Regions from separate parts of the Homo sapiens genome. Here all the other regions are linked to region 1. Evidence: fine-mapped expression QTL. A gene starts in region 1. Each other region holds a variant in brackets. All regions are shown on one strand. Distances are between the middles of the regions.

The links.
Region 2: its variant is fine-mapped to the expression of BSPRY in whole blood (TOPMed, PIP above 0.99). The same link has a PIP of 0.9 or more in blood mononuclear cells.
Region 3: its variant is fine-mapped to the expression of BSPRY in unexposed skin (GTEx, PIP above 0.99). The same link has a PIP of 0.9 or more in sun-exposed skin.

What each region holds. Positions count from the first base shown.
Region 1 is chr9:113,343,996-113,354,590 of GRCh38, forward strand. BSPRY (B-box and SPRY domain containing) reads left to right here and starts at 5,546. Exons shown (of 6, transcript NM_017688.3): 1 at 5,546-5,785; 2 at 10,245-10,343. The coding sequence starts at 5,585. RefSeq lists silencers at 5,514-5,583, 5,614-5,893, 8,521-8,570.
Region 2 is chr9:113,300,616-113,311,210 of GRCh38, forward strand. RNF183 (ring finger protein 183) reads right to left here and starts at 2,761. Exons shown (of 5, transcript NM_001371237.1): 1 at 2,441-2,761; 2 at 1,580-1,698; 3 at 1,057-1,136. RefSeq lists enhancers at 5,032-5,201, 6,967-7,136 and a cis regulatory region at 7,052. The variant T/C (reference allele first, on the strand shown) is at 4,063.
Region 3 is chr9:113,377,587-113,388,181 of GRCh38, forward strand. ALAD (aminolevulinate dehydratase) reads right to left here. Exons shown (of 12, transcript NM_000031.6): 12 at 8,726-10,595. Among named protein-coding and RNA genes, the nearest start is that of HDHD3, 5.9 kb to the left of the region's middle. RefSeq lists an enhancer at 3,507-3,566. The variant G/A (reference allele first, on the strand shown) is at 5,646.

The DNA.
Region 1 (10,595 bases):
GTACTGTGAAAACACCCCAGGAGGAAAAGAAGCCACAGTATTGGTAGTCTTATTGCTGTTCCTGGAAACCATGCAAACCCCAGTCAGATGACTTCCAGCCCTGGCACCAGAGATATTGGATCAGTGTCTGAGAAGGAAGGAGGAATGGACACAGGCCCAGGCAGAAGGGGGCTGGGCTGGGCCAGGCCAGGGCCCCACCAGGCAGGCAGAAAAGGCTGGGCCTGACACCGAGGAGCAGGCCTGAGGGAAAGTAAAGGCTAGGGAAGAATAGTCCTTTCCAAAAGACTTTCCAAAATGTTCATTAAAATAAAAAGTTTAGGCCAGGCCTGGTGGCTCACACCTGTAATCTCAACAATTTGGGAGGTTAAGGTGGGAGGATCACTTGAGGCCAGGAATTTGAGACCGGTCTGGGCAACATAAAAAGACTCAGGTCTCTACAGAAGTTTTTTTTGTTTTATTTTTATTTTTATTTTTTTTTGAGACGGAGTCTCGCTCTATCGCCCAGGCTGGAGTGCAGTGGTGCAATCTCGTCTCACTGCAAGCTCTGCCTCCCGGATTGATGCCATTCTCCTGCCTCAGACTCCCGAGTAGCTGGGACTACAGGCATCTGCCACCACACCCAGCTAATTTCTTTCTTTTTTTTGTATTTTTAGTAGAGACAGAGTTTCACTGTGTTAGCCAGGGTGGTCTCGATCTCCTGACCTTGCGATCCACCCACCTCGACCTCCCAAAGTGCTGGGATTACAGGTGTGAGCCACCACACCTGGCCCAGAAGTTATTTTTTTTTTAAAGTTTTTTAAAAAAGATCCAAGCCAAATGTTATAAATGAGCAAGTGAAAGGGCAGGTTAGAGAGCAGGTTGTACACATAATCCCAATTTTGTAAAATAAATATGTTCCAGCTTGTATCATATAGTGGGAGCTAATGAATGCTTTAACCTATGTGTGAGGACCTGTAAGTATATTTGTAGCAGTTTTTCACACATTGTAAATCGTGTGAGGTTCTTTGAAGATTGGGGAGCAGAGTTCATGGTACAGAAAGACATCTTGCACTTGCTAGTCCTCTGTCTGGAAATCTCCTCCCCAGATGTTTTCATGCCTTGCTTCTTCCAGTGCCACTTACCTGAGAGGACTTCTACACCATCCTTTCTACACCAGCACCTCCATCATGCTCTTTTTCTTGTAATACTTGAATCTTTTTCATAGCCCTTATCATTACTGACATTATATTACATATCCATTTGTTGCATTTTATTTGTGCATGAAAGTAGACTTTGTTCTTCTTGACTGTTGTATCCCCAGTGTCTAAGGCCTGGCACATTGGCAGGGGCTCAATAAATCTGTTGAATGACTAAAATGTAACAATGGTGTCCATTCTTCTCTCCCTAGCTCAGAGTGCCTGAAGTTCAAGTACAGCCCTGCCTATGCCCATGAAGCCTCCAGAGGTCCCCTAAGAGCTCTAAGCAGCTTTCAAATTTTTTTGACCTCATAAAGAAGTACATTCATTCTCCACGGTGCATATGTACGTATATATAGGCCAAAGACAAAATTACAACAAATGTAGTTGAGTGATCTTATTGGCTTTTATTAGCACTTCTAGAATCAGGCAACACCTAATTCTATAAAACAGAATGTTCCAATGAGCTGAACAGAGGACATGGGCTTTATAGGTAGAAAAGAGCTGGAAAAAAAAAGAGGATTACTCATTTCAAAGTTACTTTCCTTTTAGGGTTAAAACAGAGAGGACTTCCTTATCATGCCAGCTAATTCTGTACTGTTTGGGGATTTTAATATGCTCTCTCTTTCTCTTTTTCTCTCCCAATTTCTTGGAAGTTCAGATAAACTACTTAGTTTTGGTTTGGTGAAGTGGCAGTTTAGCATGAGTAACTCCATTTTGTTTTGGTTTGGTATGGTGGGGCCTAGTGTGGAAGCCCAGTCCAAAACAACGACCTTCCATCCATTTTGTTTACCTATATATATGTAATTGAAACAACAAAAACCTTACTAAGAGCATGTTTTCTGTTCTTTATTCTTTTCTTTTTTTCTCTTTTGGAGACAGAGCCTCACTCTGTCACCCACCACCCAGGCTGGAGTGCAGTGGTATAGTCTCTGCTCACTGCAACTTCTGCCTCCCGGGTTCAAGTGATTCTTCTGCCTCAGCCTCCCAAGTAGCTGGGACTACAGGCATGTGCCATCACGCCTGGTTAGTTTTTGTATCTTTAGTAGAGACGGAGTTTCACCATGTTGGCCAAGCTGGTCTCGAACTCCTGACCTCAGGTGATCCACCTTCCTCAGCCTCCCAAAATGCTGAGATTACAGGCGTGAGCCATTGTGCCCAGCCTTTTCTTTCTTTTTATAAAAGATGCTGATCTCCACCCCTTGAATTTCTTGATATGCCACCTAATAAAGGGTTGCCACTGCCTTAGGGCAGTGTTTCTAGAAACAGTCAAGGGGCTCCTTTGCATCCTAGTCAAGGAGTGACTGCCACAGATGCAGCTTCTTGGCTTCATCCCAGACTTAATGGATGAAAATCTTACCGGAAAGTCTGCGTGTTTTACAACTCCTCCTCTTTCCCCTCCTGACCATCCCCTGTCCTCCAACGATTCCGAAGCCTGATAAAGCTTAAGAGCTATAACCGGGGAGTTTATGAGTATCCCAGATGTGTCCTGCAGGGCTTGATGAACAGATAGGGAAAGGGCGATTCTCCAGTTCCAGTCCAACTTGGCTCATAAGTGGTGAAACAGAGGAACCCGACTTGATAAAAGTAAATCTACTCCTACCTTAGCCCTTTGCATTTGCTGATGCCACTACCTGAAAGTAATTCTGGTGATTTAGGGGCTGTTTTCCAGATCCTGGACCTGGTAGGGCCAATGACTGCTCTAGGGCCACACCCAGTGAAGGCCCCCCTCCCCCCCCCCCACCTTTCCCTAAGGATTTTAACCCTTGTTCCTCCCCCTGCCCTCCACAACCTCTTTTCTTTCTTTTCTTTTCTTTTCTTTCTTTCTTTCTTTTTTTTTTTTTTTGAAACAGAGTGTTGCTCTGTTGTCCAGGCTGGAGTGCAGTGGCGCGATCTCAGCTCACTGCAACCTCCACCTCCTGGGTTCAAGCGATTCTCATGCCTCAGCCTCCCCAGCAGCTAGGATTACAGGTGTGCACCACCATGCCCGGCTAATTTTTGTGCTTTTAGTAGAGACGGGGTTTCACCATGATGGCCAGACTGGTCTCGAACTCCTCAAGTGATCCGCCTGCCTCAGCCTTCCAAAGTGCTGGGATTACAGGCATGAGCCACTGCTCCTGGCCACACAACCTCTTTTCTTTTTAGCCTTCACACAAAAAGCACCTCCTATTTTCTTTGTTTTCACCATAGGGTTTAATAATTCCCCATCCCCAGTCCTTAGAAGGAAAAAATTCTAACCACAATCTCTAATTACCATGGCCTATTTCCCTCCCCACCCCCAGAGGAGTGTAGATGCTGTTATGAGGCCATCACCCTCCCACTGGGATGCACTGGAAACTTCTTTAGATGCCAGGAAAGCAGCACCCCTGTCGCCAAAGAACCTCACACAATTTACATTCTGAAACCTGCTACAACTGTATTTACAGATCCTCACACATATAATAAAACCTTTTATTATCCCCTACTGTATATCAGACACCCAAAGTAAATACTTTGTAGACAAGATCTCATTTCATTCTTGAAGTAGCCCTCTAAGGTAGATGATAGTATTATTATCACCTCTGTTGTAGAGATAAGAAAACAGACACAGAAGCTGTGAGTAACCTGACCAAGATCCCATAGCTGTAAGCTGCATAGCTGGGATGAAACCAATGACTATATTTCACTCAGTGTTCTCTCTAATCATATGGTGTAATATTGTCTATCTGGGGTGACAATGTGTCCCCATTGGATGATGACACCACTGTGTACCGCTCTGGGTAGCTCTGGGGCTGTTAGCTGCCCTTACCCCTCAGGTGCTAAAGCAGTAGTGGCTGAGAAGGAAAGGGTTCTATCTCCTTTGTGTGGCCATTGCTTAGAGAAGCTTCAGAGTAGAGGTGCTAGAGCCCCTGTGAGCTATGGGATGTAATGTTTCTCTTTCGGTTTAGCTCCCGCCTGTGTTCAGTTCTGATGCACTCAGAGTACTCTCTGACACCTGAAGGCCTGGGCCCTTCCCCTTTTGAGAGAGTGCCCAGCTTTCTGCCAAGACTCCTAAGAAAGAATTTGGGGTTGGTGGCCGGGCGCGGTGGCTCACACCTGTAATCCCAGCACTTTGGGAGGCTGAAGGGGGGAGATGGCTTGAGCCCAGGAGTTTGAGATCAGCCTGGGCAACATGGCAAAACCCTGTCTCTACGAAAAATACAAAACTTAGCTGGGCACGGTGGCATGTGCCTGTAGTCCCAGCTACTCAGGAGGCTGAGGTGGGAGGATCACTTGAGCTGGGGAGGTCGAGGCTGCAGTGAGCTATGATTACACCACTGCACTCCAGCCAGGGTGACACAGTGAGACCCTATCTCAAAAAAATAAAAAAAAATAAAAAAAAAAAAGAAGAAGAAGAATTTAGAGCTGGAGAGCAGCGTTCTCCTTGTATGCCCAGACAGACTAGACTGGATCCCCAGCAGAGGGCTCAATCTGGGCTCAGACTAATATATAAGATCCTGAGGGTGGGAAAAGCCCTAAACAGCTCAGGAACATGTTAGCAGTTTTTCTTTCTGGGGTGGGAGTGGGTGGATTTTTCTTCCACATGCTTATTTGCATATTTTGTTTTCTTCGAAATAAAAAGGCATTACTTTTTTTCAATGCTAGTTTAAAAAGAAAACTCAAATATTCAAATTCAAAAAGTTTGGATGTAAATACTTTGGGAAAATCAGCCTAATACAGATATTTCTCACTGGGCCTCAATGTTCAATTTAAAAAATTATTAATTATAGTAACCTTAAGTCACACTGCCTAGGTTCCAATCTCATAGCTACCAATTAGTAACTGTGACCCTTGGCAAGCCACTTAACTTCCATAAAAATGGGATCCTAATAGTACTTTCCTCGCACTGTTAGTAGACACTTAGCGATTGCAGCTGCTATGTTCCAGATATTGTTTTACGTATTTAGCGTATTTACTCCTCAGACGTCTGGGAGGCAGGTACTCTCACCCCATTTTACAGCTGGAGTTCCCACCCAGTGAGCAGCCAAACGGGATTTGAACCAGGCAGTTTCTCAGCAGAGCCTTGCTTGAAGCTAGGCATCTAAAGCTGCCTCTCAAAAAGGGCAGTGGTCGGGATTACATAACAGAACGCTTGCAAAGCTCTCAGCGAAAGCCTGGCACTTAATAAGTGCTCAATAAAGTTTCCTACGGTCACAGTAATATTTGGAGTTTTATGTTTGTTGTAGAACAAATACGCATACAATCGCGATTTCATTCAACAAGGAATTTAAAGAGACCTGCTGCCCCGGGCGGGATGGGAGCGCGGGTTGGGTGGGAGGAGGCGCAGCTGCGGGGCGCGCTGGCGCACCGGGAGGGCCGGGGGCGGGGTCAGCCAGGCCCCGCCCGCCGCCACCTGCGACAGGTGGAGCGCACGGGGCGGGCGCACGGCCATGTCCGCCGAGGGCGCGGAGCCGGGGCCGGGGTCCGGGTCCGGGCCCGGGCCGGGGCCACTCTGCCCCGAACACGGCCAGGCTCTGAGCTGGTTCTGCGGCTCCGAGCGACGGCCCGTGTGCGCCGCCTGCGCGGGGTTGGGCGGTCGCTGCCGGGGGCACCGCATCCGCCGGGCGGAGGAGCGCGCCGAGGAGCTGCGGGTGAGCGGGTGTGGGCGCCGGAAGGCGAGGGCTCCGGAGACCCCGGGCGCGCCTGGCGGGACCCGGCAGGGACTGGGGAGCCTGGGGCTGGGCGGACTCGACACCCGGCCCCGGAGCCTAGGCTCCTCGGTGGCTTTGGCTGTAGGACTAGGCGGTTAAGGGTGTGGCCTCTGAAGTCAGGCTGGCCTGAGTTCGAATCTACTCCCTGTGAGTCACGTAACTCTGAGCCTCAGTGTCTTCATCTGTAGTTTGGGGACAACAACAATAATAATAGCGCGTATTTATTAGAGTTGTGAGAAATAAATAAGATAGTGGGTAAAATGCTTAGCGATAAGGGGATCCAGGCTCCCCAGGCCCCTTCCATTGCTCTGTTGAGGAAGCTGGGGCTGGCATGAAAGGCTCAGCTGCTCCAGTTCTCAGCGCAGGGTGTGCCCCAGCTCCCGCCCCTGTGGAAACTGACACTGATAAAATCCAGCGCGACCGTATCCCTTAACCCCTGGACTCAAAGCCCCCCTCCTCCTTTCGCCTCTTCCCCCTGCTCCTAACCCCTTCTGGCTTCTGGTGCGGTGATCTCTTTTTCGCTTTCAGGATTGGCCTTGACTGTACTTCAGGCTGGTTTAAGGGCTTCAGCTGGATAAACGGTGGGGGTAGGGAGAATATCAGGGGATTCCCCTTCACCCAGGCTTTCTCGCCACCTCCACTTCCAGCTCGGCTCCAGGGTGGCCACCTCCTTGTCATCACCATTCTCCTGAGCTGCTGAGATTGGGAGAGTCGAAGTCACCTTGGGCTTCTCTGTGGCCCCTGGGGATTTCCTTGCAATTTGATTAAACAGCTTGTTTCTCCCAACCCGACTCTGCAGTTCACCCCTGCTGTGAAGCCTGAGGGCTCTGGCTGGGGACTTCGCCTACCCAGAGTGACCTGTAATAAACACATCTTATATAGGGTGCTGGGCTCGGGAGGGGTTCAGTTTTTCAGCAACACCCAAAAGCTCCTGGTTCGTCCTACCTGTTACCTCTATCAACAATAATGATGACAAAAATAAACCTGGATAACGCGGTGTAATCAACTTGCATAATGGACAAAAAAATTTGCAAACTCCAAAGTACTTAAATGTCTGTCATCTCATTCTGTCTTGACCACGCCTTTGAAGGGGTCCTACCTACATTTTACAGATGAGGCACTGGAGGCTCGGAACAAGGCAGTAACTCCTCCAAGCTTCCTAATGTTCAGGGGTGGGACCCAGGGAGTCATTGACTAGGCAAGAGGAAACTGCTGCTTTGCTTCGGCGGTTGGAGGGAGGAAGTGATGCTAATGGGGGTGAGAATGTCATGGAAACCTTAAAAGTAGCTATCAGGACTGGATTTGAGTGGTGGAAAGAGTGAAGCCTCGGGCAGGTGGCAGGCCTGGTGCTAGTTTCGGTACTACCCTAGGGAACCTTCTTTGAACCCCTCTGAGGCCGTATGCATATTTATCTCCTTTGCCTGAAGGGAGGTGGGTCTTACCCTCTCTTCCACCAAATTAGAGTAGATTTCTGTCTTTTGCACATTCCTTCCTCTATCCATCCAGTCAGCAAATAAATCTCACCCTAGGGCAAGATTATTACCAAAACCAGCACCAGTTCTACTGCTCTCCTACCTCTGGATTCCTGCCCTGTGGTTTTTCAGAAGCCTTCTCAGTGCTCTTAGTCCATGGTGCATGGTGATCACAGCTTCCTCCTAGTCAACTCAATTCTGTAACTTTGTATTTGGACCTATGAAATGTAACTAATTTCTACTTCTGGGTGGAAAGATTTACAAGGGCTTCCTGGAAGAGGTAGCTAAGTTGCCTTTTGGCAGATGGAACTGAGGCAGAACTCTTAGGGGGAACAGTGGAGGGACTGCTGCTTGGATAGGCTCTAGGTATCACCTGGAGAAACGGAGAGCAAAAGCAGGGCCCTGGCCCATACCTTCTTGGGGAAGTCACTTCTCTTTGGGCCTCAGCTTTCCCGTTTCTTTCTCTTTCCTTTTTTTTTAAAATTTATTTACTTATATTTATTTATTTTTGAGACAGTCTCACTCTGTCACCCAGGCTGGAGTGTGGAGTGCAGTGGTGCTATTTCAGCTCACTGCAACCTCTGCTTCCTAGATTCAAGAGATTCTCCCACCTCAGCCTCCCGAGTAGCTGGGACTACAGGCGCATGCCACTACGCCTGGCTAATTTTTGTATTTTTTGGTAGAGATGGGGTTTCACCACGTTGGCCAGGCTGGTCTCGAACTCCTGATCTCAGGTGATCCGCCCACCTCAGCCTCCCAAAGTGTTGGGATTACAGGTGTGAGCCACCGTGCCCGGCCAGCTTTCCCATTTCTAAAACTCCCCTGAGCTCATGGATGATGCTCATAGCTTTGAGAGCCATGAACTGCTGAACCTCTTGTGGTCAAGGCAGTGGGTGTTCGTTCATTCAACAAATATTTATTCAGGGCCTTCTATGTTCAGAAACTCTCTTTGAGGTACTAGGACATAGAGAAGTCAGACTTATGGTGCTTCTGTTCCAGTGGTGGGGGAGACAGATACCCAAAAAGGTAAACAAACACATAATATATAGTCAGAGAGTTATAAGTGCAAGGGAGAAAAATAAAGCAAAGTAAGAGATTGGGTGAGGAGGGAGATGGTCAGGGAAGACCTCTCTGAAGAGATGACATCTGAATGCAGTTGGGGAGTGAGACACACACACACACACACACACAGACTGGTGGAAACGGAACTGCAGGTGCAAAGGCACTGAAGTCAGGACAAGTTTGGTACATTTAAGGAACAGAAAGAAGGCCAGCATGGATAGAGGTAGAAAGTGATGTTGGAGAAATAAGCTGAGTCACATCAGGTGGGGCTAGGTTGGCTAAGCTAAGAAGCCTGATGTCATTGTGAGTGTACTGAAAGCCATTGGAGGGTTTTGAGTAGGGGCATGACCTGGTCTGATTTCCTTACAAAAGGTGGCTCTGGCTAGCTGGGGGGTTGGGGGTGCAGGGTACCCAGTTAAGAGGTTCTAACAGTGGTTCCTGTGAGAGATCATGGCAACCTGGATAGAATAACTGGAGTAGAGGTGACCAGAGGAGAGAGAGAGACTTTGGAGATGGGGTTGATAGGACTCACTAATGGAATTGATGTGGGGTTGGAGACAAACTCCTGGGTTTTTGGTCTGGGTAACAGGTGAATGATTGATGGTGCTGCTTAATGAATGAGGATAACTTGGCAGAGAGCAGTTCTGGACAGAACAGAAGGTATGGACAGTCAGGCAGCTGAGTATGACGGAGGACCAAGAGTGTGTGCGCCAGAAAGTGGTTATAACGGGCTGAGCGTGGTGGCTCACACCTGTAACATCCCAGCACTTTGGGGGGCTGAGGCGGGAGGATTGCTTGAGCCCAGGAGTTGGAGACCAACCTATGCAACATGGCAAAAGTCCATCTCTACAAAAAATGCAAAAAGTAGCCAGGTGTGGTGGCACGTGCCTGTAGTTCTAGCTACTCAGGAAGGACATGGGAGGATCACTTGAGCCTGGAAGGTCAAGGCTGCAGTGAGTCTTGATCATGCCACTGCACTCAGCCTGGACGACAAGCAAGACTCTATCTCAAAATAAATACATAAATAAATTTAAAAAGAAACAAACGCCTGGGTGCGGTGGCTCACACCTGTAATCCCAGCACTTTGAGAGGTCAGGGCGGGCAGATCACCTGAGGTCTGGAGTTCGAAACCAGCCTGGCCAACATGGTGAAACCCTGTCTCTACTAAAAATACAAAAATTAGCTGGGTGTGGTGACACACACCTGTAATCCCAGCTACTTGGGAGGCTGAAGCAGGAGAATCGCTTGAACCTGGGAGGTGGAAGTTGCAGTGAGCCGAGATCGCACCACTGCACTCCAGCCTGGGCAACCGAGTGAGACTCTGCCTCAAAAAATAAATAAATAAAAAAAAATAAAAATAAACACAAGACAAAATGGACTTTAAGGCAAACATAGTACTAAAGATAAAGTCACTTAGAGAATGTGCAGTTCACCAGCAACATATAATGATTCTAATCTTAAATGTTTCTAAATAATATAGCCTGAGAATATTCATAGAGCAAAAATTTGTTTTAAAGTTATTATAATGATAGGCTGGGGTTCTGGGATGAAGACGGAGGTGAGGTCACAGAAGGGGATGATGGACAGTGAAAGGTAGTCCCACTAGTGTGTTGGTGGCCTCAACTGAGCTGTTGCTGGAATAGGTATCCTAGAATTAGGGAGTGAGAAGGATAGGGCATGGTGGGGAGAGTGTGGATCCTTGAAATGGAGATTTAGGAGGTGGTACAGTTTTTGATAATGATGAGATCTGGGCTATGACCATGGGAGTGGGTGGCTGACATGTGGTAACAGGAGAAAATCACTGGGATGGAGTGAATGGCTCAGGTACATGGACCAAGATGCCACAAGCGTTGTTTGTGTTGCAGAACAAGATTGTGGACCAGTGTGAGAGGCTGCAGTTACAGAGTGCTGCCATCACCAAGTATGTGGCGGACGTCCTGCCGGGGAAGAATCAAAGAGCAGTGGTAATTCCTCTTCTTTCCTCTCTACTCAGCCCCCTCCCAGGATAAGGCCTTAGACTTAGGGACTTGGGCAAGTCTAGGGTCCCTTACCAACCTCACAGACTCATTGTGCTACTAGCAAAGCTTCTCATCCCTCAGAGACTCAATTTTACCATCTGGGCAGGGTGGGCTTGTTCCTGTACCATACTTGGTGCAAAGACTCTGCTAGCAAATGACTTTCTTGGGTATCTTGGCATAGGGGATCAAGAAGGGTCG
Region 2 (10,595 bases), 43 kb before region 1:
TGCAGGCCCAGGGAACAGCATGTGTGGCCCCGAGGTGAGAAAAGCTCTTCCAATTTGAGAAAGTGAAAGGAGCCCAGGGTGATCAAGGTGTGGTGACCGGAGTAGGCAAGGTGGGAGGGTATAGTACTCGGGACCTGTGAACTCAGGAGCTCATCTGGATTTTATTCCAGGGGTGAGCGGTAGGGTAAGGTACCTGATCCTATTTCCATTTTTAAAACACCATTCTAGCTGCAGAGCAGAGGACAGGCTGAGAGGGATAAGATCGGGAAGGGAACACCCGTTCGGGCTGCAGCAGTGTGGCTCAGGCGTGTGATGGTGGTGCAGGTTAGGCAGTGGCAGAGGAGATAAAAGGGGATGGGATAAGTGATATCTTTGGGGACAGAATCAAAGCCACTTCCCAAGAAGCAGTGGAGTTCTAGGGATCCAGTTGTAGTTTCTGTCAAGGTTCATGATGCCAGATCCATGGCTATTTAGGGCTGTGATTCCAGTTGAATTGCTTGACCTCTCTGTGCCTCTATTTCTCCTTGTGCAAAGGAAGCCAAAACTAGTAAAGCTTTTAGTTAGAGCCCAGCACCCAGTAAAGACCACAAAGCAATGCATGACCTAAAAATGGGACTATGTTCTCAGAAACACATCGTTGTATGAACAGCACAGAGAGTATTTACACAAACCTAGATGGTAGAGCCTGCTACATGCCTAGGCTATACGGTCTAGCCTGTTGCTCCTAGGCTACAAACCCATACAGCTTATTATGTTCTGAACACTGTAGGCAATTGTAACACAATGATAATTGCGTGTGTCTTTCAACATAAACTTAGAAAAGGCAAGGTAAATATATGGTATTATAATCTTAGGTGGCCACCATCACATATGTAATTCACTGTTGATCAAAACATTGTTATGGATATATGAGGCAGTTGAAATTATTAATGCAAATGGATTTGAGAGAAAGGAAGGGTCAAGGTTGATTTCAAAGCCGTGACAAAGTCCTCTGCATCAAGCTTTGAGAAGCCCCTGAATCCCAGAGTGTGTTAGAAGCAGATCTTTAATACTTACCAGAGGCCGTAAACTGTATGTAACCTTGACTCATCATTTCCCCCACTGGGAATCGATTCCACGGAAACCATCAAGGACTTCTGCAAAGATGTGAGTAAAGAGATGCCCATCCAGGCGCTGGTTTAACGGTGACGTATGGAGAACTACGTCATCATCCAGTAATAGGACATTGATTAAGTAGATTCTGCTCCATCCATAGGAAGAGATATTATGCAGCCTTTAATATGATGTGGTAAAACTATTAATATGGATATATACCTAGGATATAATGTCATTAAGCGAAAAAGAACCAGCAACAAAACCATATTACCATATAATCCAATTTCCAAAAGTGTGTGTGCAATGGAAAAAATGTCTGGAGAGATAAACAACCAGATATTAGCAGTGGTTATCTCTGGGGGCAAGATTATAAGTTTTTTTTTTTTTTTTAATTCTCTTACCTGAAAATTCTAACTTTACTCCATCCAGTAAGCTTGTATTACTACACGTCAAGATCTCCTGTTTCCCCCCAAATCAGACCTACCTTCTCTGAAGTTCCATGGCCAGAACTGTAAAAGGCTGTCCAAGAGGAGGAAGCATCATTATTGCCTGGATCTTTATCTGTGCTGCTCTCCCAGGGATCCACTGCTGTTTCAGGATCAGCTGGGGAGAGATTCTGGCCATGTATCACCTCCACCCCAAGCCAGGACATCTCAGCTACAGTAAATCCTAAACACCGCCCCAAAGTCATCTCCTTGGTCTATGAACAAGTCATCGCCAAATATCAATTGTCCCCAGCATCACTCCATTGTTTTCAACCAAGAACTGGCATTTCCATAGCACTTCACAGTTTACAAAGGGCCCTGGCCCTTGCTAAGATCTAAGTGTGGTGATCCATCTAGATAGGTTACTAGCCTTTTGGGATTTTTTGTTGTTGTTTGCAGAAAGCCATTTGATACTCTAAAACCACCCTGTGAGAGAGGCTGAATGGGGAGTAGAAAGGTGCCGGCTTTGGAACCAGATTTGGAACAATTTGTCTTGGACAAATGGCTTAACCTCTCTGAACTTCATTTTCCTCTGTAAAAAAGGCTAATCATCCCACTCCTACAAGGTTGCTCTGGGGAAGGAATAGTCTATACGGTGCCCAGTAGAATACGGAAGGCGCTCAATACAGAGTTAGCATGATTATTTTTAGACCCATTTTCTAGATGGGGAAGCCAAGGCTCAGAAGGGTGAGGCAACTTGCCGAAGTCTTCCCAGCTAAAGAGTGGCTGAGTTTGAAAGATGAACCCAGTAGCCTGCCCTCCCAGGCCAGAGTTCACCTGTCGCGCGCTGCACGGCTGCTGCCTCTCTGGACTCTGGAGCCCTGTGACCCGTCCCTCCGCGACCCTCTCTGTCTCCTTACCTGCTCCCTCGGAGCCGCCTCCTCCGCCTCCGTTCGTGCAGCCCTGCACGCATGTGCTTTGTTTTCTGACTTCCCAGGCCCGATTTCCAGGTAGCGTGGGTGGGTCTTATTTGCATAGGTCTTAGCAGCGTTTGGCCAGCTCTCGCTGTTTCAGGTTTTCTTCTTCCTTCTGGTGACTTTGGACCTCCTGTACACCCTGGAAGCTTTGGTTGCTTTGTCTTTCTCCTGTGAGTCACTCTGGCTTTTTCTCTGAGGGGATCAAGTGCGCTCATCCTTGCAGGCCTCTGTTCTGGGTCCGATTGATCTCCTGCCATCCCCTCGGATTCCACTGTCCTCTGTGCGCTGACCTGCCTCGACTCCTGGCTTCTGCCGAGATGGATCCTTCCCTATGCTGAGTCCCTGTAACCAAAATACAGATAGCTCTTGCAAAATACTGACAAAAGCGGCCACTAATACAGCAGAAAAATAGTCGGGAGACGGTTGAGCGTCTGCCTGAAGAGCCAGGGTTCTCAAGCAAGGCACACTTCTAGGTCAGAGTTCAGCCCTCACTGAGAATCCAAACTCCGTTTAACTACCGATGGAGACTTGAGCAAATTAATTAACTTCTGCCAGCCTCAGTTTCCTCACCTGAAAATGGCCATAATAACCTACCTACTTGATCTGTAGATTAAATGAGGTAATACGTGTCGAGATCGCGTAATAACACAGGGCCTGGCAGACAGTAACTCGCTAAATGTTAACCAGAACTATTATTGTTATAACCGGTCTGTTCACGTGGCCCATCTTTTGTTCCCGCTCAAATTCTTTTTGTACCTATGGTCCTCTTTTCTTTCTCTCTCTCTTTCTTTCTTTTTTTTTTTCTTTCTTTTTTTTTTTTTTTTTTAAGACGTAGTTTTGCTCTGTCGCCCAGGCTAGAGTGCAGTGGGGCGATACTGGCTCACTGTAACCCCCACCTCCCTGGTTCCAGCAATTCTCCTGCCACGGCCTCCCGAGTAACTGGGACTACAGGTGCGCGCTACCATGCCCGGCTAATTTTTACATTCTTAGTAGAGACAGGATTTCGCCTTGTTGGCCAGGCTGGTCTCAAACTCCTGACCTCAGGTGATCCACCTGCCTCGACCTCCCAAAGTGCTGAGATTACAGGCATGAGCCACCGCGCCTGGCCCCTTATTTCTTTACTGACATTTTCAGCCATACTTGAGAAATAAACAAGTAAATAAATGTATCTGCTTGGTGATGTAATCAAATGCCCTAGTCCCCGCATTTTGTGTTTTTTTACATTAATTTTTATGTATTGATTTATTTTGAGACAGAGTCTCACTCTATCATCCAGGCTGGGGTGCGGTGGCACGATCACAGCTCACTGCAGCCTCAACCTCCTGGGGTCAAGCAGTCTTCCCACCTCCGCCTCCTGAGTACCTAGGACTACAGGTGCATGCCACCGTGGCTGGCTAATTTTTGTATTTCTTGTAGAGATGGGGTTTCTCCAGGTTGCCTAGGCTGGTCTCAAACTCCTGGGCTCCAGCAATCCACTTGCCAAAAGTGCTAAGATTACACTTGAGCCACCGTGCCCACATTTGATTTTTAAATAGGTAATATATTTACATGGTTGAGCATGTGAA[T/C]GGTTTGATTTCACAGTGAAAACTGTCTCTTCGCAGCCACCTAGTTTCCCTGGAAATCAAAGTATTATACTATCAGTTTGTTGTGTATCTTTCCAAAGATGTTTTATACATACACAAACAGCATGTCCATGGCAAAACATCTATGTATTCCTTTACCTCCTTTTTACACAAATGTGCATATTATGTACACTGTTCTGCATTTTTCTTTTTTCATTTGATGATGTATTTGAGATATCATTCTGTATTAGTACATAAAGACCTTCTTCGGTTTTTGGCCCAGCGCTGTGACTCACACCTGTAATCCCAGCACTTTGGGAGGCCAAGGCGGGTGGATCACTTGAGGTCAGGAGTTCAAGACCAGCCTGGCCAACATGGTGAAACCCCGTCTCTACTAAAAATACAAAAATTAGCCGGCGTCATGGTGCACACCTGTAGTCCCAGCTACTCAGGAGGCTGAGGCAGGAGAATCGCTTGAACCTGGGAGGCAGAGGTTGCAGTGAGCTGAGATTGTACCACTGCACTCCAGCCTGGGCGACAGAGCAAAAAAAAAAAAAGAAGACCTTCTTCGGTTTTTTAATGGTTGTATCAGATTTCATTGAATGGCTGTACCATAAATCACTTCACCAATCCCCTATTGATCTAACCCCCTCATTATAAATATATAAATATTGAATGAAAGAATAATGCAAAAATGCTGATTTTAAGTTAGCCTAGAATTGTGTGAAAATAAAACTGTGGACTTTGGGAAGTTTTAGATCTCTAAAGAAAATGTCTAAGTAATTCTCCTCTTTCTGAGCTGGAGACGAGGTATATGATCACCGATGGCCTCAAAGTTCCTCTCAGCTCTGGAATTCCCTGCTTTTCGGTGTCACTACTGGTTAACTGAGGTTACTGGGGATTCGAGACACTGATTTAGTCCAAAGAACCTGGTTTGTATTTGAGAGTTTGGAAGTCACGCTTTCTGGCTTGGCAACATAAGAAAACATAAAGAAGTTCATCTACTTTGACCTAATCATGTAATTCCCCAGAAGCATCAAAAAGATATATTTTGGTTGAGTGAGGATATTCATTGCAGTTTTATTTTAATCACAAATGATTGAAAACACTCCAAAACCCCATCAATTAGGTGAAAAACTACATAATCATTTAAAATGATATAGAAAGATTTTCATTGACTTTTAAAAATGGTCACAGTATACTGTAAATGGAGGGGGAAAGCAGCTTAAAAATGGTGCATGTTGGCCGGATACGGTGGCTTACGCCTGTAATCCCAGCACTTTGGGAGGCCGAGGCAGGCGGATCACAAGGTCAGGAGTTTGAGACCAGCCTGGCCAATATGTTGAAACCCCGTCTCTACTAAAAAATACAAAAAAAAAAAAAACTTAGCTGGGCGTGGTGGCAGGTGCCTGTAATCCCAGCTACTTGGGAGGCTAAGGAGGCAGGAGAATCGCTTGAACCTGGGAGGCGGAGGTTGCAGTGAGCCGAGATTGCACCACTGCATTCCAGCCCAGGCAACAGAGAGAGAATCCATCTCAAAAAAAACACAAACAAACAAACCAAAACCAAAACAAAACAAAACAAAAAAACGGTGCATGTTGGCTGGGCACATGCCTATAATCCCAGCACTTTGGGAGGCCGAGGTTGGAGGATTGCTTGAGCCCAGGAGTTCAAGACTAGCGACCCCATTGCTACAAAAAATAAAAAAATAAAAAATTAGCTGGGCGTGGTGGCACATGCCTGTTGTCTCAGATACTCAGAAGGCTGAAGTGGGAGGATCACTTGAGCCCAGAAAGTCAAGGCTGCAGTGAGCCCAGATTGCACCACTGCACTCTAGCCTGGGCAACAGAGCAAAGACCCTGTGAAAGATAGAAAAGAAAAAAAGAAAGAAAAGAAGAAAAGAGAGGGAGAAGGAAGGAAGGAAAGAAGAAGGAAGGAAGGGAGGGAGGGAGGAAGAAAGGAAGGGAGGGAAGGAGGAAGGAAGGAAGGGAGGGAGGGAGGGAGGGGAAGGAAAAGAAAAGAAAAGGAAAGAAAGAGAGAATGTAGCATAAGCCAGATTTTGTAAAGCATAATTTATGTATAAAGACTGCAAGACCATGAGGCAAAATGTCACAATTTTATCTCTGGGTGATGGCCACTCATGTTTTCGCTTTCTTCTTGCTTACATTTTCCAAGTTCTCAAATATGTATTACTTTTGTAGTAAGAAAGTTCACTTAGAAAGTAAGTTAAGTCTGAGTTTTCTGCAACCAGGGTATCCAGAACTTAAAAAGATAAGCAGGTAGGGCAGGTAAGAAGTCAGTCATGACATTGTAAGCATTGAAATAAAAATAAAATAAGTCATAGCCAGGCATGGCCTGTAATCCCAGCACTTTGGGAGGCCGAGGCAGGCAGATCACTTGAGGTCAGGAGTTCGAGGCCAGCCTGGCCAACATGGTGAAACCCCGTCTCTACTAAAAATACAGAAATTAGCCAGGCATGGTGGTGGGTGCCTGTAATCCCAGCTACTCTGCAGGCTGAGGCAGGAGAATCACTTGAACCTAGGAGGCGGAGGTTGCAGTGGGCCGAGATCGCGCCATTGCACTCCAGCCTGGGCGACAAGAGCGAAACTCTGTCTCAGAAAAATAAAATAAAATTTAAAAAGTCATGGCTTTTTTCCAGGTCACTAATTGTCTAGTGAGTCTATGCATTATCATAATGTCTGTGGGTGGTCAGGCTAAGGAGTGCTTTGCCAACAGTGAAAAATTTTTCCAGGGAGATACCCGGGAGAGATAGTGAGGCATCTCAGGAACTTGAGAGTTAAACTAATTTATAAAGTTCATGCTTGTGGGGGCAAGATCAGCCATCTGGAAAAGCACCTCACCTAAGCAGTACCTTAGACCCGGGTGAGTGAAGAGTCATGAGACTCGGTGGAGCCCAGCCAATGTCTGGAGCAGAGGCGTGGGGTGGTTTTAACTCATCTGGGAAGGAAGAGGTGGCAGAGGGCAGAAGGATGGAGAAAAGGTGATGAGTGCAGCAGGTTTAGAATCCGGCATGGTCAGTGTTTAGCAGGCCCCAGTCAAGGGCAGAGGGCAACTCTCCCTAGGGGGCCACCATGTCATCATCACTCAGAGCCTTGCCTGAGGCTTGTCTAGCATTTAGGACAGTTCCGGCAGCATAGGCATCACTTAGAGATTGTTAGAAATGCAAAATCTGGCCGGGCATGGTGGCTAACACCTGTAATCCTGGCTCTTTGGGAAGCTGAGGCAGGCAGATCCCTTGGGGTCAGGAGTTCGAGACTAGCCTGGGCAACATGGTGAAACCCCATCTGTACTAAAAATACAAAAATCAGCTGGGTGTGGTAATGGACACCTGTAATCCCAGCTACTCGGGAGGCTGAAGCAGGAGAATCGCTTGAACCTGGGAGGTGGAGATTGCAGTGAGCCAAAATTGTGCCATTGCACTCCAGCCTGGGCAACAGAGCGAGACTACGTCTCAAAAAAAAAAAAAAAAAAAAAAAAAGAAAGAAAGAAAGAAAGAAAGAAAGAAAGAAAGAAAAACAGAAATGCAAAATCTCAGACCCACTCCAGACCTACGGAGGCAGAATTTGCATTTTTACGAGATCCCTGGGAGATTCAGAGACACATTCATTACAAGTGAAGAGTACTGATTTAGGAGACATACCTCCAGTATATACTCCTTGATGCCTTCTGATTATATTCAGCTTCAGATTCATAAAGGCTCCCAAGGACCTGACACCTTAGGCAGGGCAACGTGAATCCCAGCCTGGGGATGGGCACCCCCGGCCTCTGCTGTGTGCAGCATCTGAATTTGCTTTCCAAGTCACAATCCCTTATTCAAAACATTTGGTTCCAAGTGTGTTTCAGAATTCAGAATTTTTCATAATTTTAGGAAGGTAAGATGATGCATTTGCCAACTCTCCCAATTCTCCCAGTGGGATCTGGGGCAGTACCCTATATTCAAACATTGATATCTTGCAGCTTATTATGAATATTGACACCGAAAAGAATAAACATCACAAGATCAGGTAAGTTTTGGCACCAAATTTAATGGAAAACCTTAGTTTTCAGGCTGGGTGCGGTGGCTCACACCTGTAATCCCAGCACTTTGGGAGGCTGAGGCGGGTGGATAACAGGGTCGGGAGTGCGAAACCAGCCTGGCCAATATGATGAAACCCTGTCTCTACTAAAAATACAAAAATTAGCCAGGCGTGGTGGCACGTGCCTGTAATCCCAGCTACTCAGGGGTCTAAGGCAGGAGAATTGCTTGAATCTGGGAGGTGGAGGTTGCCGTGAGCCGAGATCGTGCTACTGCACTCCAGCCTGGGCAACAGGGCGAGGCTCTGTTGCAAAAAAAAAAAAAAAAAGACAGCAAATAAACTCACCTAAAACTTTAGACACAGAGATAATTGCCCACACATTTGGATTATAGCTTTTGTCTCTCTTTACATTTTAAATATATATTTTATATATTTTAAAATAATATATATACTTTATATAATTTCATATAAAATGTCACACTGTATGTAGTTTTCTAGCCTCTGTTTTTCACTTTTCATCTTTTTATATAATCAAAGAGTCTTCTACAGCCTTTTCTTCAAAATCAAGGTAGTTTTATTGTATTTTGGTTGTAAAAGTGATAATAGGAAAAAACAAACATATATTTGCTTATATGTGCATAAAGTCTCTAAAAGGATACACTAGTTGCTGGTCACACTGTTTACCTCTGGAGGGAGCCAGATGGAAGGCAGACAGGGACGAGAGAAGAATTTTTATTGTATAATCTTTTAGACTCTTGATTATTACTTTGTGAATGTATTCTCTATTTCAAAAATAAAATTAAAAAAACTGGTACATCCTCACTGCAAAAGAAATCAAGCAATATAGAAAGGAACAAAGAAGAAAATAAATTCATCTTTAAACTCAATACCCAGATACAACACTGTTAGTATTTTTGCCACATTTCTTCCAAGTCTTTATCTATGAATGTACAGACATGTGTATGGAGATATTTTTACCAAAATAGGATGATGCTGTACGATGGTTTTTGTTACCTGTGTTTTTCATGTAGGGTGAATCACAGACAGCTTCCATGCAGCCTCATTTTAAACATCTGCATTGTTATTGCATGAAGTTAGCCAGTTACCAAAAAATTAATCCAGGTGAACTGAGTCCAGCATCTGAATACGCAGTGCCAGGTAACACCAACCCCCTGATCCAAAGCTGGGATTTTCTTTTCTTTTCTTTTCTTTTTGTTTTTTTTTTGTTTGTTTGTTTTTTGAGACAGAGTCTTGCTCTGTGGCCCGGGCTGGAGTGCAGTGGTGCGATCTCAGCTCACTGCAACCTCTGCCTCCCAGGTTCAAGCAATTCTCCTGCCTCAGCCTCCTGAGTAGCTGGGATTACAAGCATGCACCACCATGCCTGGCTAATTTTTGTATTTTTAGTAGAGACGGGGCCTCACCATGTTGGCCAGGCTGGTCTCGAATTCCTGACCTCAAGTGATCCTCCCACCTTGGCCTCCCAAAGTGCTGGGATTACAGGCGTGAGCCACCGTGCCCGGCCCAAAGCTGGGATTTTCAATTTGCTGTCTGTAGGATCTTGAATAGGCAGGATGTTATGTTCCAGAACCTGGAGAGATAACATATGGGAACGGGCTGGATGTTCCTTCTGTCCATGGTGTTTAAACCCATGTCGCTTATTCCATAGGTACAAACACCTCTACCTGCCCCCTTCCCCTCAGCCTTTATGCCCACTACCACCAGGATGATGCCAGAGAGGGCCTTGGTGGCCAGAGCCAGTCTGCATGTCAAAGACCCGAGCTCCCATTTGGGCTCCACCACACACTGAGTGATCCTGGGAAAGTCACTTTTTCTTCTCTGTAGAACAGAGATAATAATCTCCATGATGCCTTTCTCAGAGTGTTGTTTTGTTAGAAGAATCAGATAAGGTTATGACTGTGAAAGTAGTATGTAAAATACAGGGCACTCTACACATAGAAGTTTTTATTGTTAAAGTCTGGCCTCTTCCCTGGAGCTGTCAGGGAGAAGGTAGATGCCAAAACCAGCTGGCCCAGCTTCCTTCCGTGATTGGCTCATGGAGCAAACATTCCCCTTGTGCACTTTTCAACATCTACACACTCATCTTTAAAATGGAGTGTTGTAAAGGTCAAGGGCACAAAGCGTTGACAAGGGCGTGGAACAACTGAAACTCTACTAATGCTTCTGCACAGCTGCTGGGAAGTAAATTGGTACAACCTCTTTGGAAAATTGACAGTATATACTAAAACTGATCATGTGAATTCCCCTATGTACGGCCCAGCAAGTCCTCTGCTATTTATGTAATAAACACAGGTATTGTGGATGTTCACCAGAAGACATGTTATTAAGATGTTCATAGCAGAACTATTTGTAAGGGTCCCAAACTAGAAACTACCCCCAAATGTCCATCAGTAATTAAATGGATAAATTACAATATTTTCATACAATGGAATAGGATACAGCAATGAGAGCGAATGGTATTCAACTACATGCAGCAATATG
Region 3 (10,595 bases), 34 kb after region 1:
TCCGCTGCAGTAACCTGCTTTTTTATTCTTTCTCTTTTTTTTTTTTTGAGACGGAGTCTCCCTCTGTCGCTCAGGCTGGAGTGCAGTGGCGCGATAGCCCACTGCAACCCCCGCCTCCCAGTTTCTTGCGATTCTCCTGCCTCAGACTCCCCAGTAGCTGGGATTACAGGTGTGTGCCACCACACCCAACTAATTTTTGTATTTTTAGTAGAGACAGGGTTTCGCCGTGTTGGCCTGGCTAGTCTTGAACTCCTGACCTCAGGTGATCCGCCCACCTCAGCCTCCCAAAGTGCTGGGATTACAGGCATGAGCCACCGCACCTGGCCTCTTTTTGTTTTTAAGAACCCTGTGGTACCATCCTGGCTAACACGGTGAAACCCTGTCTCTGCTAAAAATACAAAAAATTAGCCGGGCATGGTGGCAGGTGCCTGTAGTCCCAGCTACTCGGGAGGCTGAGGCAGGAGAATGGCATGAACCCGGGAGGCGGAGCTTACAGTGAGCCAAGATTCTGCCACTGCACAATATTTGCCTGGGCAAAGAGCGAGACTGTGTCCCCAAAAAAAAAAAAAAAAAAAAAGATCCCTGTGGTAAGAGCCTGGAATCCTAACCACTAGACCACCAGGGAGCTTTTTTATTCTTTTGAAGAATAAAAAAAGAGTTTTATCTTTGTTTGCAAAAGTAATGTATGTTGGCTGGGCGCGGTGGCTCACGCCTGTAATGCCAGCACTTTGGGAGGCTGAGGTGGGTGGATCACCTGAGGTCAGGAGTTCAAGACTAGCCTGGCCAACACGGTGAAACCCCGTCTCTACTAAAAATACAAAATTAGGCGAGGTGGTTCATGCCTGTATTCCCAGCTACTTGGGAGGCTGAGGAAGGAGAATCGCTTGAACCGGGGAGGTGGAGGTTGCAGTGAGCCAAGATCAGGCTACTGTATTCCAGCCTGGGTAACAAGAGCAAAACTCCATCTCAAAAAAATAAAAAAATAAAAAAATAATAAATAAATAAGGTATGCATGTAATGCATGTTAGTCTCAAAAAACTAAAAAATACAAACATATGAGAGTTGGCCATGCAGAGGGGAAGGATCTGAGTGATGGTTAAGGGACCCCCTGATGCAAAGGCCTCCAGGCAAGAAAGTTTTTTTTCCGAACCAAAGAGACACTGAGGAACTATAGGAATGTTGCTAGCCAGGGGGTTTGGGCCAAAGAGGCTGGGGAGGTACCGGAGGGGAAGCTTTGAGATACTTCTGTGCCTGTGCTCTGTTCCTCTTTAGTCTCATCACCTTGCACTATGACCTTAGGCAAGACAGGTCATAAGACAGCCCCCACCACCCAGGCCCCTTTGAGAGGGTCTTGCCGCATACCCTGGAGGAAGGAACACTGCACAGAGAGGCCAAGAAGAATCTACACAGATGGGTCTTGGTGGGTTTCTCTATTCAGTCTATTAGCGTTTTGTGCAATCCTGTTTCTACATGTGAAGGGGTGGCCTGCCCCTCCACACCTGTGGGTATTTCTCATCAGGTGGGACGAGAGACTGAGAAAAGAAATAAGACACCGAGACAAAGTATGGAGAAAGAACAGTGGGCCCAGGAGACCGGCGCTCAGCATACGGAGGACCTGCTCTGGCACTGGTCTCTGAGTTCCCTCAGTATTTATTGATTACTATTTTCACTATCTCAGCAAGAAGAATGCGATAGGAGAGCGGGCTGATAGTGAGGAGAAGGTCAGCAAGAAAACATGTGAGCAAAGGAATCTGAGTCACAAATAAGTTCAAGGGAAGGTACTATGCCTGGATGTGCACACAGGCCAGATTTATGCTTCTCTCCACCCAAACATCTCAGTGGAGAAAAGAATAACAAAGCAGCATTGCTGCCAACATGTCTCGCCTCCCGCCACGGCGCGGTTTTTCTCCTGTCTCAGAATTGAACAAATGTATAATCGGGTTTTATACCGAGACGTTCAGTTTCAGGGGCAGGCAGGAGACAGAGGCCTTCCTCTTATCTCAACTTCAAGAGGCCTTCCTCTTTTACTAATCCTCCTCAGCACAGACCCCTCGCGGGTGTCGGGCTGGGGGACGGTCAGGTCTTTCCCATCCCACGAGGCCATATCTCAGGCTGTCACATGGGGAGAAACCTTGGACAATACCAGGCTTTCCAGGGCAGAGGTCCCTGCGGCTTTCCGCAGTGTATTGTGCCCCTGGTTTATCGAGAATGGAGAATGGCGATGACTTTTACCAAGCATACTGCCTGTAAACATTTTGTTAACAAGGCACATCCTGCACAGCCCTAGATCCCTTAAACCTTGATTCCATACAACACATGTTTCTGTGAGCTCAAGGTTGGGGCAAAGTTACAGATTAACAGCATCTCAGGGCAAAGCAATTGTTCAGGGTACAGGTCAAAATGGAGTTTCTTATGTCTCCCTTTTCTACATGGACACAATAACAGTCTGATCTCTCTTTTCCCTACATACACGGCCATGTACACTTCGTTGAACCTAAGCATAAAAATGGACAGTTTCCTCTGTATCTGTGGCTCTTCATTCTGAAGGCTCCCATGTCACAAAAAAACTATGATCAAATAAATGTATATGCTTTTTCTCCTATTAAAAAAAATACAGACATATTCAGGGTTAGGCATAGTGGCTCATGCCTGAAATCCTAGCACTTTGGAAGGCTAAGGTGGAAGGATCCCTTGAGCTCAGGGGTATGAGACCAGCCTAGGAAACAAAGTGAGACCCCATCTTGTTAAAAAATAATAACAGGCTGGGTGTGGTGGCTCACGTCTGTAATTGCAGCACTTTAGGAGGCCGAGACCAGTGGATTACTTGAGGTCAGGAGTTTGAGACCAGCCTGACCAACATGGTGAAACCCCATCTCTACTAAAAATACAAAAATTAGTGGGGCATGGTGGCAGGTGCCTGTAATCCCAGCTACTCGGGAGGCTGAGGCACAAGAATTGTTTGAACCTGGGAGGCAGAGGTTGTAGTGAGCTGACATCACAGCATTGCACTCCAGCCTGGGTGACAGAGCAAGACTCTGTCTCAAAAAATAATAATAATAATGCAAAATACAAACGTGTACAAAATAAAAAGCCAGCCCCCCACCAACACCCAACCTCATTCATTGACCACCTAACATCTGTGGGCTCTGTGTCCCCTGTCCTTCTCTGAGGATTCAGTGGGAAACAAGGTGGTTCCTGCCTGCATGGGGCATGGGAGGGGCAGACAACCATTGAGTAGATAAATAAACAAAGTGATTTCAGAGAGAGAAGTGGAAGCGGTAAAAACAATCATTTTATGAACAGTGACAGGGTATCTCTTTGGATGAGGTGGTCAAGGAAGGAACAAAGATCTGAATGGTGAGAAGGAGGTTGTCAGGTTAAGATCAAGGAAAGTACTCCAGGTGAGGAACCGGAAAGAAGGGTGTGGGGCCTCAGCCTGCTTACTGAACAAGGGCAGTAGCCTTGGGGCAGGGAGAGAAGGGCTTCCCCACCCCATCTCACTCCCCAGGGATTGCTGAGGTGACAGTTTTGGTTATGCTATGACACAGTTTTCTAGCAGCACACAAACATGTATCTAATTTTCTTTCTTTCCTCTCTTTCTTTCTTTCTCTTCCTCCTTCCCTCCTTTCTTTCTTTTTTTTTCATTCTTTCTCTCTGTCTCCCTCCCTCTTTTCTCTCTCTCCTTTCTTTCTCTCCCTCCCTCCCTCTTCTCTCTCTCTCTTTCTCTCTCTCTCTCCTTCCTTCCTTTCTCCCTCCCTCCTCCCTTCCCTTCCCTTTCTTTCTTTCCTTTCTTCTTCCCTCCCTCCCTTCCTCCCTTCCTTCCTCCCTCCCTCCCTCCCTCTCTCTCTCCCTCCCTCTCTCTCTGTCTCTTTCTCTCTTTCTTCCATTTTTGAGACGGAGTTTCACTCTTGTTGCCCAGGCTGGAGTGCAATGGTGCCATCTCAGCTCACTGCAACCTCCACCTCCTGGGTTCCAGCGATTCTTCTGCCTCAGCCTCCCGAGTAGCTGGGATTACAGGTGCCTGCCACCACGCCCAGATAATTTGTGTATTTTAGTAGAGACAGGATTTCATCATGTTGGCCAGGCTGGTCTTGAACTCCTGACCTCAGGTGATCCACCTGCCTCAGCCTCCCGAAGTGCTGGGATTACAGGCATGAGCCACCGAGCCTGGCCCTTTTTTTTTTTTTTTTTTTTTGTGAGACAGAGTCTTACTCTGTCACCCAGGCTGGAGTGCAGTGATGCGATCTGGGGTCACTGCAACCTCTGCCTTCCAGGTTCAAGCAATTCTCCTGCCTCAGCCTCCTGAGTAGCTGGGATTACAGGTGTGCGCCACTGTGCCCGGGTAATTTTTTGTATTTTTAGTAGAGACGAGGTTTCGCCGTGTAGCCAGACTGGTCTAGAACTCCTGACCTCAACTGATCCACCCACCTTGGCCTCCCAAAGTGCCGGGATTATAGGCATGAGCCACTGTGCCTGGCCTAATTTTCTTCCTTTCAACTCTTAAAAACAAAAAAACAAAACTTTCTCCTATGTTCCAAGTTGGTCTGTTCACTGGGTTCAGGCCTGGGAAGAAACACAAAGTGCAGAGTCACAGACTTTGGACCTGCAAGAGAGAGCCCGACTCACTTGCAAAACTGGTTTTGTGTTATAAGCATGAAGCAGAAGTGGGGGTGGGAAGGGCAACTGGGAGACCAGAGGTTCAACTGCATTTCACAGAATCCAAGAATGTCTGATACTGTCTACTTTTCAGGGTCACCGAAAACCTAACCCCTTAGGTTCTGATCCCAGCTCTGCCATCTGTCTGTCTGTGAGCTCTCCATTCAATTGTTTTTCTCTCTGAGCCTCAGTATCCCAATATGCAAAATGTGAATTTTCCCAAAGTGAACATACCCATGCAACCAGCACCCAGACCAAGAAAAAGAACAATTTCCAGAACCCTCCACAGCCTGTCCACTTCCAGTTACTTACTACCCAAAAGGGTAACTATCTTGACTTCAAACTGCATAGTTAAACTTTATTTGTTTTTGAACTGTATATAAACAGAATAATATAGCATGTATTTTTTATGCCTTGCTTCTTTTGCTCAAAATTGTGTTTGATACATCTGTGTTGCTATGTGTAGTTGTAGTTAATCCATTCTCACACCTTTAATATTCTATTATATAAATAGACCACATTTTACTGTTGATGAACATTTGGGTTATCTCCAATTTTGTTTATTACACTTCTTTTTTCTTTTTTTTGGAGACAGAGTCTCGCTCTGTTGCCTAGGTTGGAGTGCAGTGGCGCCATCTTGGCTCACTGCAACCTCCCACCTCCCAGGTTCAAGCAATTCTCCTGCCTCAGCCTCTCAAGTAGCTGGGATCACAGGTGCCTGCCACCACGCCCGGATAATTTGTGTATTTTAGTAGAGATGGGATTTCATCATGTTGGCCAGGCTGGTCTTGAACTCCTAAGCTCAGGTGATCCACCCACCTCAGCCTCCCAAAGTGCTGAGATTACAGGCATGAGCCACCATGCCCGGCCTTATTACATATATTATAAAATGCTGCTATGAATGCTGTTGAACATGTGTCTTATGAACATAGGTAATGTTGGGTAAATACTGTTGGGTAATACCTAGGTGTGGAATCACAGGGTCATAA[G/A]GTATGCATATGTTCAGCTTTGGTAAATAGGGCCAGACATTTCTTTTTCTTTTTTTTTTTTTTTTGCAGACAGGATCTCCCTCTGTAGCCCAGGCCGGAGTGCAGGCCAAACATGGCTCACTGCAGCATCCACCTCCTGGACTCAGGCAATCCTCCTGCCTCAGCCTCCCAAGTAGCGGGAACCACAGACATGTGTCACCACGCCCCGCTAATTTTATTTTTGTTTTTATTTTTTAGTATAGACATGGTCTCACTATGTTGCCCAGGCTGGAGCTAGACATTTTGTTTTCTTTCTTTCTTTCTTTCTTTCTTTTTTTTTTGTTCTTGTGGAGCCAGGCATTTTGAAAGGGTGTACCAGTCATATCTGAGAGTTCCAGTTGTTCTGCATTCTCAACACTTGACATTGTCCCATTGTCCTTTTAGTATTAGGCATTTTCTTTTTCGAGTCTCCCTCTGTTGCCCAGGCTGGAACGCAGTGGCACGATCTCAGCTAACTACAACCTCCGCCTTCTGGGTTCAAGCAATTCTCCTGCCTCAACCTCCCGAGTAGCTGGGATTACAAGCGCACACCACCACACCTGACTATTTTTGTGTGTGTGTGTTTTTAGTAGAGACGGGGTTTCACCATGTTGGCCAGGCTGGTCTCAAACTCCTGACCTCGTGATCCGCCCACCTCGGCCTCCCAACGTGCTGGGATTACAGGCATGAGCCACCGCACCCAGCCAGTATTAGGCATTTTTGTGGATGTATTGTGGTATCTCATTGCGGTTTTAACTTGAATTTTCTCCACTAATGAAGATAACACCTTTTCATATATGTATTGGTTAAGTTTTCATTTTTTATTTACATAGCCACACATGAATATATCCTTGTTACATATAATACATGAATAGAAATAATACATATAAAGCTAAAGTCCCTCTAAAACGAATCCCTTCACTAGTTTTATTTTTAATTGAAAAACATTTTTTTTGTAGCAATGGGGTCGTGCTTTGTTGCCCAGGCTGGTCTTGAACTCCTGGTTTCAAGCAATCCTGCCACCTCGGCCTCCTAAAGTGCTGGGATTACAGGTGTGAGCCACCATGCCCAGCCCCTTCCCGAGTTTTGAGCACTGGGCTTGGAGTTAAGAGACCTGAATTCCAGCCTTGGTCTGCCACTGACTAGATTGCTGTCTAATTTTGGACAGGTCACCTCTCTGGGTCTGTCTCCCCATCTATAAAATCAGAGTGTTTAACTAGATAGTCTCTAAGGATCTTTTTTCTTTAATATTCTGACCACTGTTTCTGTGATCCCAAGAACCTCCATTAGGTAAAAATGGCCATTTGCCTTACTATCCATTCTCTCCATCTTCCTTAGTAACTGAACTCCCGAGTTTTAGTTGAGCATATGGCTGGCCCACTAGACTATTTCCAGCCTCCCTTACAACTGGGCATGACCATGTGACTAATTTGAGACAAGGGTGTGTAGACAGAAATGATGTGTGCAACTTTTGGGTCATGACTTTATAAAGAAGGGTCATGCCCTCCATTTGCTCTTCTCTTCCTGCTGGCTGGAAAGAGGACCTGATGATGGGAACTGGCCCAGCCATTTTTTTGTTTTGTTTTGGTTTTGAGATAGGGTCTCACGCTGTTTCCCATGCTAGAGTGCAGGGGCGCAATCACCACTCACTGCATCCTTGACCTCCTGGGCTCGCTCCTGCCTCAGCCTCCTGAGTAACTGGGACTACAGGCATGCACGACCACACCCAGATAATTCTGTATTTTTTGTACAGACGTGGTTTCCTCATGTTGCCTAAGCTAGTCTCAAACTCCTGGACTTGAGTGATCCACCCATCTCAGCCTCCCAAAGTGTTGGGATTACAGGTGTGAGCCACTGTGCCCAGCACCAGCCATCTTTGTTCATGAGATGGAGGCCAAGATGTGTTGATGATGACAGAACAAGGCAAGAGCTGAGACCCCTCACAACATATTGCTGACATATCAGCCCTGGATTGCTTAGAAGTAAATTTTCATCTCAAGCTATCATTATTTTGGCTTTTGTTATATCCACTGAACCTGAATCCTGATTAATACAGAGTGACTGGAGAATGACTTTTTTTTTTTTTTTTTTTTGAGACAGAGTCTGACTCTCTGTTGCCCAGGATGGGGTGCAGTGGCATGATCTCGGCTCACTGCAACCTCTGCGTCCTGTGTTCTAGTGATTCCTCTGCCTCAGCCTCCCAAGCAGGTGGGACTACAGGCGCCTGCCACCATGCCCGGCTAATTTTTTGTAGTTTTAGTCTAGATGGGGTTTTGCCACGTTGGCCAGGCTGGTCTTGAACTCCTGACCTCAAGTGATCCGCCTGCCTTGGTCTCCCAAAGTGCTGGGATTACAGGTGTGAGCCACCACGCCCAGCTCCAAGAGTGACTTTAGATTGGGTGTTGGGTCAGGTTTCTCAGAGGAAGGGATGCTTTGAGCTGAGATCTTAACAAGAGAGACAGCCATATAGATTTAGGGGAAAAGCATTCCAAGCCAAGGAGGCCACTGGTGCAAAAGCTCAGTCCAAGACAGCGTTCTGTGTAATGAGGCCTACCTGGTCAATTGTGGCGCCATCTCCCATCCCATTGTTTACAGTGACTGAGCCAAGAGTGGACCATGTGGCCTGAACAGGCCCAATCAGAGACCTCCAGAGATTTGCTATGTGAGTGATGGGACAGGAAGGCTCTTTCTCTGGGATTACAAATCTTAACGACTATTTAAGCCTAGAATTATTGAGGATCATGTTGCTGGCAAGTGGCAAAAACCCACCTGAGTATAAAGCTGGGGCAAACACAGACGAGAGTTAGAAAGGGACAGAGACCTCCATGGGGTTTGACCCTGGGCCCAACCACACCTGTCCTTATCTCAATCCAGTTATGAAAACCAATCATGTCCTTCTTTGCTATTGAACTGGATTTCCATCACTTGCAACCAAGTAGGTGCCTGGTCTCCTTGGTCTCCCCGTATAACTGGGGCTAATTGCAGATGGTCCCCGAACTGTGATCATTCAATTCACAATTTTTGACTTTACAACAGTATGAAACAAGACATTCAGTAGAAACTGTACTTCAAATATTGAATTTTTATTCAAAATTCTTTACAACTTTATTACAATATAGATTTTGTGTTGGATAGTTTTGCCCACTGTAGGCTAATGTAAGTGTTCTGAGCATGTTTAAGGCAGGCTAGGCTAAGCTATGATGTTTGGTAGGTTAGGTATATTAAATACATTTTTGACTTATGATCATATTTTCAACTTATGATCATATTTTCAACTTATGATGGGTTTATCAGGATGCAAACCCATCACATAAATGGAGGGGTGTCTATAAAACATTGTTAGACCTATAATTTTGCTGTTGATTATTGGGAGGTGGTATGGCACAGTGGTTAGGGGCAGAGGCCTTGGAGTTGGACTACATGGGTTCAAATCCCAGCTTGGCTGTTTTCTGTGCAGTTCTAATCCAGTTCTGCCACAAACTTGTTGAGTGGCCTTAGGTGAGTCACATAAGCACTCTAGATATAGCTTCCTTATTGCAAAATGTCTCAAGCTAAGTTTAGTATTCTCCCTCCACCCCGACCCTGCTTCTGTTCCTCTTCCAGGCTGCCCCATCTCAGTAAATGGCCCATCAGCCACCCAGAAGGTCAAGCCAGATTCATCCTTCACATCGAATCTACCTTCTAAACACATCCACAATCCATTCCCCTTTCTCCATCCCCACTGTCCCCGCTCCAGTCCATGCCATCAAGACTTTTCATTTGCACTTTGCCGCAGAGCTGTTAAAATACTTTTACAAACTACAAATTTGATTGAGTCACTCTGAAAAGGTGAATGTGGCCCTTGACCTCTGCATGGTTTGGTCCTGGTCTGTCTCTCTCCACTCAGTTCAGGCCATCCTCTCAGTGCTCCAGACAAGCTAGCCTTGCATTCCTCCAGCTAGAAGGAGCCCCAGGGCCTTTGCACAACTCCTCCCTCTCCCTGGAATGCTCTTCCCCAATTGTCTTAGCTTGATGGCTCACCCTTCAGGTCTAGGCTCAAATGTCAGTCCTTCAGGGAAGTATTTTCTGATCCTTCAAAGAGGTCAGGTCCTGGTGACCTCCTTCAGAGCACCTGTCACCACATCACTGGTGCATGTCTGCCTCCTTCCCAACTACTGTTTCAAGAGAGGCCCCTTCCCTGTTGTTGTCTCAGACCCCTTCTTTCCTTCAAAGCACTTATCACAATTTGTAACTGCTTTATTTCTTTGTTTTCTTCTTAGCTGTCTCCCCAATTCTCTTTGTATAATTTCTATGAAGAGATAAGCTGAGGTCTGTCCTGCTGTATTCCCAGGACCCAGCACTGAACCTAGGAACAGAGCAGAGATTCTCAAAAAGTATCTCCTGAATAAAAAGTGTTTGTGGTGGTGGCACCTCTAGCAGTCAGGAACTCCCTCTTTGCCTCTGAGTTTTGATCCTCAGGCAGTATTTATGCTGGTTAATGAGTAATTCTTCTCTGGGTTTATGGTTCAGAGTAGAATAGGAGACCTCAGGCAGCCTGGCAACCTCTGGCCTCGTGGGAAATGCCTTCCAGTGGAATTGCGGCAAATTTCAACTCTAACCCAGGGATATCGATCTAGGCCTCATTCCCACACCCAGCTCTGCTGCCAGAAGCGTTCCAAGGCTTCTCAGGCCCCAAGATCCCACTGCTCTCTTCTTCCCCTAATGCTCCAAGACCCTCTCCCAGCCAGGCCCCAAAGGCTGTGCCCCCGACTCCAGGTTGCTTTCAAGCTGAAGCCACACCAGAGGAAAGAGCTGAGGGTGGCAAAGGTGGGCCTCACGGCTGACCCAGGGGAGGGGCGGGGAAGCTTGGGAGAGCTCATAGGATGCAGCTGCGAGTTACAAGAGTTAGCATGCTGGCAAAACCACCCAGGGCTGCTGGGCCCCGCTAGCATG